Homo sapiens: one gene and its partner. The protein of the gene in region 1 interacts with the protein of each later gene in a pairwise test. Each region holds a gene or a part of one and is shown on either strand. Other genes may lie near its edges.

Region 1 (7,028 bases):
AACGTCAGAAAATGGCAGCCCAAACAGAAAGATTGAATAAGATCCAGGTTCTCATAAAGTAAGGCAAAAATGTCCAGGTTTCAAGTGAAAATCATTCATCATACCAAGAACTAGAAAGATTTCAAATTGAATGAACAATAATAATCAATATACGCCTGCACTAAGATGATGATGTTAAAATTATCTAACAAATATTTTACAGCAGACACAGTAAAAATGCTTCAATGAGAAATTGTGAACACCCTTGAAACAAGTGAAACAAAGTGTCAGCAAAGAGAAGGACAACATAAAAGAAGAACCAAATGGAAATTGGAAATTGTAGAACTAAGAACAGCAGCAGCCAAAATATAAAGCTCAGTGGATGGGCTTAATAGAAAAATAAGAGGACAGAGAAAGAAATCTATGAGCTGAAAGACAGAACAATAGAAATCCAGACCACAGAGAAGAAATAGAGTGGGTCTTCGGCTGGGTGCTGTGGCTCACACCTGTAATCCCAGCACTTTGGGAGGCCGAGGTGAGCGGATCACAAGGTCAGGAGATCGAGACCATCCTGGCTAACACGGTGAAACCCCATCTCTACTGAAAAAAAAAAATACACAAAAAATTAGCCGGGCTTGGTGGCACACGCCTATAGTCCCAGCTACCCGGGAGGCTGAGGCAGGAGAATCCCTTGAACCTAGGAGGCAGAGGTTGCAGTGAGCCGAGATCGTGCCACTCCAGCCTGGGCAACAGAGCGGGACTCTGTCTCAAAAAAATAAAAAGAATGGGGTTTAAAATAGAGCTTCAGGGACCTATGAGACGATAACAAATGATATAACATTCGTTTCATTGAAATCCCTGAAACAGAGAAAGATGACAGCCTGAAAAAGTGCTTGAAGAAATAATGGCTAAAAAATTTCCTGAATTTGGCAAGAGACATAAACATACAGAATCAAGAAACTGAGTAAACCCCAAATAGCATAAACGCAAAGAAATCTATGCCAGAGACATATGATTAGACTTCTAAAAATGAAAGACAGAATTCTCTAAAGCAGTCAGAGAAAGATGACACTTCACCAGTATGGGAAAAAGAATTTGGATGACTGAATTTCTCATCAGAAACCAGAAAGACCAGAAGAAAGGGACACAATTATTTTTCTTCAAGTGCTCAGAGAAAACCGTCAAGCTAGAATCCTGTACCCAGTGAATATATCTTTCAGGAATGAAGAAGTAATCAAAACATTCTCAGATGAAGAAAAACTAAGAATTTATCACCAAATACAATAGGCTTTCCTTCTTCTTTAGAGTTTTCTGAATTACGTTTGATAGCAGAAGCAAAAATCTTAGCAATATCTGATGTGGTTCAAAATGTACATAAAGGACATATTTAAGATAATTATAGAAAGGCAAAGGTAAAGGAACATAATAGGAGATGAGGTCTGTGCTTCACTGGAACTGGCAAAGTGACAACAACACAGGCTGACACGATGGCTCACACCTATAATCCCCCTGCTTTGGGAGGCCAAGGCAGGAGGATTGCTTGAGGACAGGAGTTCCCAGCCTGGGCAACATAGCAAGATCTCATCTCTAAAAAATTTTTTTTAATTAGCCGACATGGCAGTGCGTGCCTGTAGTCCCAGCTACTCAGGAGGCTGAGGGGGAAGGATCACTCGAGCCCAGAAGTTCGAGGCTGCAGTGAGCTATGATCACACCATTGCACTCCAGCCTGGGCAACAGAGCAAGACCCTGTCTCTTTAAAAAAAAAAAAAAAAAAAAGACAATATTGGCCAGGCACGGTGGCTCACGCCTGTTATCCCAGCACTTTGGGAGGCCAAGGCCGGTGGATCACCTGAGGTCAGGAGTTTGAGACCAGCCTGACCAACATTGAGAAACCCCATCTCTACTAAAAATATAAAATGAGCCGGGTGTGGTGGCGCATGCCTATAATCCCAGCTACTTGGGAGGCTGAGGCAGGAGAATCGCTTGAACCCGGGAGGCAGAGGTTGTGGTGACCCGAGATCGCACCACTGCACGCCAGCCTGGGCAACAAGAGCAAAACTCCGTCTGAAAAAAAAAAAAAAGACAACATTAGCTGGGCGTGGTGGCTCACATTTCTAATCCTAGCACTGTGGGAGGTCAAGGCAGGTAGATTGCTTGAGGCCAGGAGTTCAAGACCAGCCTGAGCAACATGGTGAAATCCTGTTTCTACAAAAAAAAAAAAAAATGGCTGGATGTGGTGGCACGGGCCTGTAGTCTCAGCTATGTGGGAGGCTGAGATAGATGGTAGGATTGCTTGAGCCCAGGACAGACCTCTAGCAAGACTGACCAAAAAAACAGAGAAGTTATAACATCAGGAATGAAACAAGGAGTACCACTCCAGGCCCTGCAGCCATCAAAAGGATAATGAGGGAATGCCACAAACAGCTCTACACATAGGAAGTTGACAACTTAGATGAAACTGACCACTTCCTCAAAAAACACAAACTACCACAACTCACTTGATATAAAATAGATCATTTGAATAGCTCTATAACCATTAGGAAATTGAACTTACAGCTTTAAAACTCCCCAAAGAGAAGTCTTCAGGCCCGGTGGTTTCATTAGAGAATTCTATCGAAGAATTCTTTGTTTAAAGAAGAATTAACATTTCTATACAGTCTCTTCCAGAAAATAAAGAGGAAGGACAACTTCCCAGTTCATTTTATGAAGCTAGTATTATCCTGACACTAAAACCAGATAAAGACAGTACAAAAAAAATCCTTTACAGACCAACATCCTCATGAATTTTGATGCAAAAAATATTTAACAAAATGTTTACAAATAGAATTCAGCAATACATAGAAAGAATTATACACTGCTGGGTGTGGTGGTTCACGCGTGTAATCCCAGCACTTTGGGAGGCTGAGGCAGGGGATCAGGATCACTTGAGCCCAGGAGTTCAAGACCAGGCTGGGCACCATAGTGAGACCCCTCTACAAAAAATAAAAAAATTAACTGGGCATGGTGGTACATGCCTATAATCCCAGCTACTCAGGAGGCTGAGATAGGAGGATTGCTTGAGTGAGCGTGGGAGGTCAAGGCTGCATGAGCTATGATTACACCACTGCACTCCAGTTTGGGTGACAAAGTGAGACTCTGTCTCAAAAAAATAAAGAATGATACACTGTGACCAAGTGGCATTTATTCCACAGATGCAAGGCTGGTTCAATATTCAAAATGCGATCTAGAGCCGGGAGTGGTAGCTCATGCCTGCAATCCCAGAACTTTGGGAGGCCAAGGCGGGTAAATCACTTGAAGTCAGGAGTTCGGGCCCAGCCTGGCCAACATGGTGAAATCTCGCCTCTATTACAAATACAAAAATTAGCCAGGTGTGGTGGCAGACGCTTGTAATCCCAGCTACTTGGAAGGCTGAGGCACAAGAATCGATTGAACCTGGGTAACAGAGTTTGCATGAGCTGAGATGGCAGCACCACACTTCAGCCTAGGCAACAGAGCAAGACTCTATCTCAAAAAAAGAAAAGAAAAGAAAAAATGCAATCAAGGCAGGTCACAGTGGCTTATGCCTGTAATCTCCCAGTACTTTGGGATGCCAAGGCGAGAGGATCACTTGAGGCCAGGAGTTCAAGGCCAGCCTAGGTGAACTGCAAGACCCAGCTCTACAAAAATAAAAAAATTCAATCAATGTAATCTACCATATTAACAAGCTAATGAATAAAGAAGATAACATGATCATATTTGATGCAGCAGAAGCATTTGACAAAATTCAACCATTCATGTTAAAAACTCAGAATAATAGGATTAGTGGGGAACTTTCTCAACTTGAAAAAGAACATCTACATAAAACCTACAGCTGATATCATACTTAGTGGTGAAAGCCTGAATGTTTTACTCCTGTGGCTGGGGGAACAAAGCAGGGATGTCCACTGTCACCACACTTATCCAGCATAGTGCTGGAAGTTCTGGTCAGCGTAGTAAGGCAAGAAAAGGAAGCAAAAGGCATATAGATCAGAATGGAAGAGGTAAAATTGTTTCTAATCAGATCACACGATTGTCTATAAAGAAAATCCCAAGGAATGTACAAGAAAACTCCTAGAACTAATAAGTGAGGATAGCAAGGTTGCAGGACACAAGATAAACATGCAAAAATCTATCTTATTTTTATATAGTGGTAATGAACAGGTGGACAGTAACATTAAAAATATAATACCATTTACAATGAAACAAAATTACTCAGATATAAACTAGCAAAATATAAAGGACTTATATGCTGAAAATAATATAATGTGGATGAGAAGAAGATCTAAGCAGAGACACATGCCGTGTTCATAGATTGGAAGATTCTACATACCAAAGATGTCAAAGGTGGATATACAAGCCTAACAATTTCTATCAAAATCCCAGCAAGTAGATCAATGGAGGAGAATAGACCCAAACAGAAATAGGCCCATATGAGTTACGGGTGCAGATACAACCGCAGGAGACGCAAATCAGTTCAGCAGATGAAAGTTAGCCTTTCAACAGATCGTGCCAAGGCAGTTAGACATCCATAGGCAAAAGATGAACCTTGACCCAAGTCTTACACCAAGCTTGTCCAACCTGCGGCCTGCAGGCTGCATGCGGCCCAGGACAGGTTTGAATGTAGCCCAACACAAATGCATAAACTTTCTTAAAACATTGATTTTTTTTTTTTTTGCGATTTTTTTTTTTTTTAAAGCTCATCAGCTATCATTAGTGTATTTTATATGTGGCCCAAGACAATTCTTCCAGTGTGGCCTAGGGAAGCCAAAGCATTAGACACCCCTGTCTTACACCTCATAAAATAGTGTCTCAAAATAGATCTTGAAATTAAATGTAAAACATAAAGCAATAAAACCGTTTAAAAATAGAAAATCTTCAAGTTCTAGGACTAGGCAAAGAGTTCTTAGACTTGACACCAAAAGCATCCATAAAAGGAAAAATTGATAAATTAGACTTCATCAGAATTTAAAGCTTTTGCTCTGGGAAGGACCATATTAAGAGGATGGGAAGATAAGCTAAATCTAGGAAAAAATATTTTCAAATGACATATCTGACAAAGAAATGGTATCTAGAATATATAAAGAACTCACAAAACTCAACAGCAAAAATAATATAAAAAATTCAATCTGAAAATAGGGAAAAAATATAAACAGACATTTCACCAAAGAGGAGACCCAGGTAATAAGCACAGGAAAAGATGTTCAACAGCATTAGTTATTGGGGGAATGCAAATTAAAACCACCAGATATCACTAACACCTATCAGAATGGCTAAAATAAGAATAGAGACACCACCAAATGCTGGTGAGGGTGCAGAGAAAATATCTATTGGTAAACAAGCAATAGCCGAGTCCAGAGGTTTAAGAAAACTTTGTTCAGGCAAACTTAAGAAATTAATGGGCCGGGCGCAGTGGCTTACACCTGTGATCCCAGCACTTTGGGAGGCCGAGGTGGCTGGATCACGAGGTCAGGAGTTCGAGACCAGCCTGACCAACATGGTGAAACCCTGTCTTTACAAAAATTAGCTGGGCATGGCGGCACATGCCTGTAATCCCAGATACTCAGGAAGCTGAGGCAGGAGAATCACTTGAACCCGGCAGGTGGAGGATGCAGTGAGTCGAGATCCACTGCACTCCAGCCTGGGCAACAGAACGAGACCCCATCTAAAAAAAAATTAAGAAATTAATTATTAAGTTAATTTTTTTTTCCTGAAAATAGGGTAATGAGTTCTGTTTTTCGGTTTGTTAGGTCAGAGTATGCAAGCCATTGTCTTTAGGGGTCTCTTGCCCATCTCCTGTGTGTGTGCACACCCACACGCGCTTGCACACATACACACACACACACACCCCTCTTGTTTGCTGATGCCTGAAATGTTGAGAACAAAGGGTTCTCCCCTGTTCCATACTATACTGATTTGGCAGTGAGGACTAAAGAGAGCTGTGCCTTGGGGCCTACAGGAGGCAGAGTGCTTGCTTTGGGTAGGAAAAGGGTCCAGATAGAACTGTCACAGTGAACACCCAACACATCACCCACAGTGGGCCTCGTTGACCTTCACTGGGCCAGGGCAAGTGAAAACTTGGCAGGGGAGGTTTCTGGGGCCTGCAGCTGCCATTGAGATAGCCACATGGCGCGTGCTTAGGAAAGATGTAGCGTGAGTTTGATTTTATTTTAACACAATGACTTTCATGGAGACAGGATTCCTTCCTGAGACATTTGTTTATTCTTGCTTAATCCCTTGTTTCTTACAGGACAGAGAACACCCCAATGATTGCTGGCCTTGGGAAGGTGAGCCCTGGTGAGCTTGAGGAGATGAGTTGATTGCTTTGTCATCAGTGTCCCCAGCGGCTCTAGTAGGAATCTGGGGCTTTAGGGAGATCATATTCGTGATCTCATAAGCGGACTGACAAGAAAAAGCCTGGAATCTGATTTATCAACCTGGAGAGCTGTACTTTTTCAGATCTGTGGATTAGTGGCACTTGTTTAGCATTTAAAAGGGAAAAACTCCTTGTCTGTGTCTCTTCTGACATGAGAAACAGTGATACTGTTACAGCAGAGGTGAAGTGTCAAGCTGCAGGTTCACCATTCCCAAAGGCGTCGGCAGCCCCCGCACCATCGACGTTCTGTCCCCGATTGGTCTGTGGGGTGGCCAATCCAGCACCTGCCACCAGCCCTCCACTGGGGCCTGTCCTGCTTCTGCGACAGTAACCAGGCTCAGGTTTTGCCGTGCGAAGGCAGAGGTACTGGTTACACCTCGGCGTCTGCAGGCTGCTCCCTCACTGTGCGGCCTCTGGTCAAAGGCCACCACCTTCAAGCAACCCTCCATGAACCACAGCTACATTGGTTCCCCCATGTCCCCTGCTGTCACCCTCTATCCCTGACACTGCTTTATTTCCCCTATCTGATGTTTCTCTGTAGTGTGTTCAGATGTATGCCCCACCTTCTGCTTCCCCGAGAGCAGGGGCTTGGCCATGTCGGCCTCAGTATCCCCAGTACAGAGAAAGGGCTTAGCGCCCAGGAGGCCGGGCCTTGGGA
Region 2 (7,028 bases), on another chromosome or scaffold:
AAGATGACATGCAAATGTATTATATACCTCAAACAGCATTACTATTAGCACAATTAATTGGCTTTAAAACTACCATTGAACAGTGACATATTTGGGGATTTCAGTCAGTAAAACAAATCGATTGTTTCTTATGTCACACTATATAATCTATGGTGTCTTTACCTTTCATCAAAAGTTGTTTTTTTATCAAGAACTTGACAGTGGGAGCCAGGCACGGTGGCTCACACCTGTAATCCTAGCACTTTGGGAGGGCTGATTGCTTGAGTCCAGGAGTTCAAGACCACCCTGGGCTTTCCACCATGGAAACCCTGTCTCTACAAAAAAATACAAAAAAATTAACAGGACATGGTGGCGTGCACCTGTAGTACCAGCTACTCGGGAGGCTGAGATGGGAGAGTCACTTGAGCCTGGAAGGCAGAGGTTGCAGTGAGCTGAGATTGCACCACTGCACTCCAGCCTGGGTGACAGAGCAAGACCCTGACTCAAAAAGCAAATAAATAAAAAAATCAAAAGAGACAATTAAAACTTATAATAAAAAAGAACTTGGCAGTGTAAGTCCTTCTTAGCCAACTAGAAAATTAATTTCTTTTTTTATGACTAATTTATTACCTGATTCAACCTTTAATTTTTTACTAAAAAAAGCTAACCAGTAATATTACATTGATACTTTTAACCTATCTTGATTGATATTAATTACCTTTTTTAATGTGTTTGTTTTGCTTATCTAGAAAAACACACCTTGACTTTAGTCAGATACATCACTGTCTGTTAAAGGAAACCAAGCGTGAAGTGGAAGTCTAACACATGAGGATACAGAATTGATTCAAAATGGGAACAACAAGTGATGAGATGGTGTCTGTGGAACAGACCTCCTCCTCTTCTCTAAACCCCCTGTGTTTTGAATGTGGCCAACAGCACTGGACAAGAGAAAACCATTTGTACAATTACCAGAATGAAGTGGATGATGACCTAGTCTGCCATATTTGCCTTCAACCTCTGCTGCAGCCACTAGACACACCCTGTGGACATACATTCTGCTACAAGTGCCTCAGAAACTTTTTACAAGAGAAAGATTTCTGTCCGTTGGACCGGAAAAGACTTCATTTTAAGTTGTGCAAGAAGTCTAGTATTCTAGTTCATAAACTCCTAGACAAATTATTAGTTTTATGTCCATTTTCTTCAGTGTGCAAAGATGTAATGCAACGTTGTGATCTGGAGGCACATCTCAAAAACAGGTAAGCAAAAAATATAAAAGAAGTAACTCCAGATTTTGGAAAAAGGTGGTTCAAATGAACATAAAAACTTGATTAAAACAAAACAAACCAGAGCACTAGTAAGTAAATGGGTGAATCAAGTACAGAAGAGATACAATAAATAAGTTGTATGGAACAGTATTTAACATTATTTATCAAAAACATGAATACAAAAACTACAGTGAGGAAGTACTGTTTTATACCTGTTAATATTTCTGCTGCTGTAATATGAAACTGATATATTCAAATAGATGACAGGATATTATGATAGATTCTTTCTATAAAGCAGTTTGGCAGTTTGTTTTTAAAAACTATATGAATGTAAATCTCCTTTTATCTAGTTTATTATCCTAAGGAAATAATCTAAAAGCAGGAAAAATTGTATGTAAATATGTTCAGTGCAACATTGTGCATAGTTTGGTAAATTGGAATCAGTTATTTAAAAGTAGGGAAGGGTTAAAAAATACTATGCACATAAACTCAGTGGGATATTATGCAGCCAATAAAAACGATAATTTTGTTGCAATATGGAAATAAATACATTATTTTATTTGCTAAGATCTTGTAAAGATTCTGGGTTCAGGGACTAGACTGAACAAGAATTAGGAGTTGGAAAACTAAATATTTAGTGGGGATTTCTGTTCTCATAAAAGCTTTTTAAAAGGTTAAGTAATTTATTTAGCTGATGAGTTTTATAATTTGATTTTGCTAAAAGACTTGATCTTTAACTTAGGAAGAGTTACAGTATACGTCATTTGTGTAGAATCACATAAAATGGCAGAAATAAATACTGGTTTCTAATTTCAAGTTAAGCCAGTTTTACAGTATAAATCTGCAGTAATCTCGATTGCTGTGAAAAACAATGCATACTACATCATACTGGACTTAGATGTAAGAGTGTAAGTCTGATATAGAATGGCTTGCTATTATACTCACACATAAAATCATAGACTTGAAGGAGATTATCTAATCCCCCTCATTTTATGAATAAGGAGACTGAGTCACAAAAATTTAGTTAATGCTGTAGTTAGACTCAAGCTTTACTGTTCTTGTTTACTATTCTAATAAACCATGTTGACTCTATCGTAGGTCAAGTCATGTTCTCTGCTGCTATGTAGCAAAAGTTTCATTCATGTGCACATGAAATACACATTCATTTTGTATCAATATATTGTTGATATTTATTTCTAAACATCAGAGTTAAGACATGAGAAACAATGAAAAAAACAAAGATGTTATTAAAATGTTGGAAACATTTAGATTTATAGAATGCTTAACTCTAAACTGTGTTGTCTAGAACTAGGAGGTAAGATAGAGTAGGATAGACAGACTTTTGAAAATGCGTGTAATAATGTAGCATTGCATTTTTTTATATCTTCTGTAACCAGCAAGCATAGAATCTGAACATGATGGCAGAGGCCTCCTGGAAACTGACACTGGTCTTTTGAATATACTAGTCTGAGTCAGGACTAGTTATGGCTGAAGAATATTTCAGGCTGCTTCTTTCAGTAGAACTGTTCTTTTCAGTGTATAGGCTTCTTTTCTAAACATCAGTTATGAGATGTTAGAGGAACTGAATGAAATGTCAGTTCAGTTATTTATGATTTTGAGAGCTGAAAGATAACAGTTTCACAGATTTTCAGGAATATTCCTTTAACATGCATTCAAGAATTTAATTTGCAGTTGAACTATTACTAGTGTTTCTTATCAAACCATTTATAATGAGAATGTAAAAAACCTTGGTAATTGCAAACTGCCTTTTCATTTACATGTTGGTAAAGGCTTATCCAGTTGAAGGTTTCATTTTCCAGCTGTGCTTATTAGTATTGAAGTAACCAATTTTATCATTTCTAAAGTATCTTAGGCCTGTAACATGAAAGATACAGTGAAAAGATGGATGATTGGAAAAGGTGGTGATTTGCCTGATACAGACAGCTAAGAGTGATTACTGAGTATATAAATGTAAAAAAATTATAAAATGTAATATGATTTTTATATGCCATTTGAACAGATAGTGATGAACAGCCTGACCTTTCTCTGTTCTCTTAAATAAGAACATTGAAATTCAGGTAGAAATGTATATTATACAACATTCAACCCTAAATAATATAGTTCATTTGTTTATTCAGCAAATATTGATTATCTGCTATGTGCCAGATACTTTTCTAGGTGTTAGGTAGTCTCTGCAAGTTAGAATCTAATGCCGGGTTGTAGATTCCTTTAGAAACAGAACCATGTCTTTATAGTCTTTCAGTTTATTTGCCCAAAGTTGACAGTCATCTCATGTTAGTCCAATTAAATTGTTGATCTGTGTTTCAGTTATTCATTGCTGAGAAACTAACCACCCCAGACACACTGACATAAAACAACAAGCATTTGTTGATTCTGTGAGTCAGGATGCAGACAGGATGAAACAGGGATGGCTTGTCTCTGCTATCTTTATGTGTGCCACAGCTGGGAAGGAGCTGAAAGCCAGGGACTGCAACAGTTGTAACTGGAGAGTCTACTTCCAAGATGGTTTCTTCATTCACATTTCTGACACCTTGATGGGAATGACTAGGTGCGTGGGACTTGTCAGCTGGAGAGGCTACAGGTAGCCTTCCCAGCATGACAGCCTCAGGGTATTTAAAGTTCTTACATAAGTGGTTCAGTGTCTAGTAGGCTGCATGGCCTCATATGATCTAGCCTTGAAGTTGCCTGGCATCCCTTCTCTGTTGGAAGCAGTCATAAACCCACCCATATCCAAGGAAAAGGGGACATAGGTTTCACCTTGTGATGGGAAGTCAAAAAAATTTGCAGCCATGTTCTAAAACCAACATAAACTAGCAAGAAGAATGATGTTATGCGGCGCAGAATATGATTACTACGACTGTTTGCGGCTTCTCGGTATACAAATCTCACTTGTTTGTTAGAAATTGGTAAGTCTGTAAGTTTCATTGAAATTCATAAGATTTTAGCATCAGCAACAAAGAGTCATTGTATAAAAGTTGCATGGCTGTCATGTGCCTTTGCTCTTGAGCTTTTAGGGTTTACAGGAATCTCTTAATTATTGGTAGAAATAGAGCATTAGCAGTAGTTTGCATAAATTTGATAATTTCACATTTAAGATCACCTTCCTATTTGAATGAAATCCTGCCCTTAACAAATGTGTTTTGATTTGAGAAGAGCAAACATTTTTCTCCTACAGATAAAATATTTATGAAAGATGAACATGTTTAAATAAAACTGCTATTTTTAACTGATTATGTATTAGTGAAATGAAGAATTTTAAGAGACATGGACAGTCTCTATCTTTGAACAGAGAAATAAAGCCTTTGAAAAATATTCTACATGTTGTACTAAATATGTAACATTTTGATTGTTTCTTTGAAATTCTGCCAAGCAACATCAGCTATATAGCATTCCTCCTACGCTCTACCACTCATCTCCAACCCACCCTTAACGATTTAACATTTAAGCCTTTGGTAATTGTAAGTGCTAGTTGTTGTTGTTGTTTTTAAATTGTGTGTTTGTGCCCTAGTTTATGGCAAGGTTCAGAATTACTTTTCCTCTTAAAAATTACAGTTTAATGCCATTATAAAAAGTTTACAATAGAAAACCTTTAAAGAAGCCTCTTTCCTTGCTGAGAACTTTTCTTGTTCATGAGATGGTTATGAAACCTTAAGTTCAAGTTTGTTCAGCCTGTGCCACATGCAGCCCAGGAAGGCTTTTGGGATTATTTTTTTTTTAAGCTTATCAGCTATCATTGATGTTAGTGTATTTTATGTGTGGACCAAGACAATTATTCTTCTTCCCGTGTGGCCCAGGGAAGCCAAAAGATTGGACAACCCTGCTTTAGATGATGGTCCAGGAAAAACTAAATAGAAAAAAAAGGGATCAGGATAGGCTGAGGCATGATTGCACTTTTAAATTCACACTTTAACTTGGAGGGAAGTTTGTGTTTAGCACATTCTTATCAGTATTGTTTTTTCATGTATGGTGTGAAAAAGCAGATATATGTATTTGCAAATCATGTGTATTCTAGTATCCAGAATATATAAAGAACTCTTAGAAATGAAAAGATAAATCCAATTTTAAATGGGCAAAGGATTTGAATAGATAGTTCTCCAAAGATACTCAAGTGGCCAGTAAGCACATGACATGCTCAACATCATTAGTTCATTTTTATATTGGATTATTTGTCTTTTTGCTAAGTTGTAAGAATTTTCTATGTATTCTGGATACTAGACCCTTACCAGATATATGATTTGCATATATTTTCTCCCATTCTGTCAGTTGTCTTTTCACTTTCCTACATCCTTTAAAGAACAAATATCTAATTTTTATGAAGTTCATTGTTGTTTGCTTATGCTTTTGGTGTCATATCTAAGAAAACATTGCCCAATTCAAGGTCACAAAAATTTACATGTACGTTTTCTTCTAAGAGTTTTCTAGTTTTCTCTCTTATAATTCAGTTTTTGATCCATTTGGAATTAATTGCAATGAGAAATCATAATGTGTATTGTTCAATCCTTTAAATTTTATTGAGGCCTTTCTTTTCTTTTTTTTTTTCTGGAGATAGCATCTCGCTCTGTCACCCAGGCTAGAGTGAAGCAGTGCAATCTTGGCTCACTGCAGCCTCCACCTGCTGGGTTCAAGTGACTCTTGTGCCTCAGCATCCGAGTAGCTGGGACTACAGGCGCACTCCACCATGCCCAACTAATTTTTTTTTTTTTTGTGCTTTTAGTAGAGACGGGGTCTTGCCATATTGCACCAGGCTTGTCTCAAACTCCTGAGCTCAGGTGATCCTCCACCTAGGTCTCCCGAAGAGCTAGGATTACAGGCGTGAGCCACCATGCCCAGCCTTGAGGCCTTTTTTAAAATGGCCTAGCACATGGCCTGTCTTGGAAAATGTCCTGTGTGTACTTGGGAATAATGTAAATTCTGCTGTTAATGGATGGAGTGCTCCATATGTCTATTGGGTCTAATTGGTCTATAGTGTTAAAGGGTCTATTTTCTGGTTCCATGTCTAGTTGTTCTGTTAGTATTGAAAGTCGAGTATCAAAAGCTTTATTGTTGATTTGTCTATTTCTCTCTTTGTCATTTTTTACTTACGTATTTTGGGGCCATTGTTTGGTACAATTTCTGTTTATAATTGTCATATCTTGTTATGTTTTTCTGTCTTTTGCTTTATTTATGTCTTTGAATCTGAAGTGTGTCTGTTGTAGACAGTTGGATTATGTTTCTTGTAGCCCATTCTGCCAGTCACTGACTTTTTATTGGGATGTTTCATTCATGTAATTTAATGTAATTACTGATAAGGTAGGCTTTACATTTGCCATTTTGCTGTTTGTTTCTATATGTCTTATTTCTTTTTTCCTCCATTTCTTCCATTTGTGTTAAATATTTTTAATATGCTATTTTAATTCCCGTGTCATTTCTCTTAATTAAAATTATTTTCTTAGTGGTTACCCTGGGGCTTACAATTAACATCCTAGTTTATAGCAGTCTATTTTAAATGAATACCAGCTTCATTTTCACTAATGAATTAGTCAGGGATCTGTAAGGAAATAGAACCAATATATGAGGAGTTGGCTGACATGATTAAGGAGTCTGAAAAATTACACGTTCTGCTCTCTGCACGCTGGCAACCCAGGGAAGTCAGTAGCATAATTCAGACCTTCTCAGTCAGAAGGTCTGAGAACTAGGAGAGCCAGTGATCCCAGTCTGAGGGCAGGAGATGAGATGTCACAACTCAAGCAGTAAGGCAGGAAAATAAGGAATGAATTTCTTCTT

What was found. The genes of interacting proteins can lie anywhere in the genome.
Region 2: the proteins of SCLY (region 1) and LNX2 interact in binary tests that used the Homo sapiens proteins (3 or more experiments, as listed by UniProt).

Annotation. Positions count from the first base shown.
Region 1 is NC_000002.12:238,084,974-238,092,001, forward strand, and holds part of SCLY (selenocysteine lyase), read left to right. Parts: intron 1-6,244; coding exon 6,245-6,281; intron 6,282-7,028. UniProt on the Homo sapiens protein: Catalyzes the decomposition of L-selenocysteine to L-alanine and elemental selenium.
Region 2 is NC_000013.11:27,575,504-27,582,531, reverse strand, and holds part of LNX2 (ligand of Numb protein X 2), read left to right. Parts: intron 1-728; 5' UTR 729-828; coding exon 829-1,235; intron 1,236-7,028.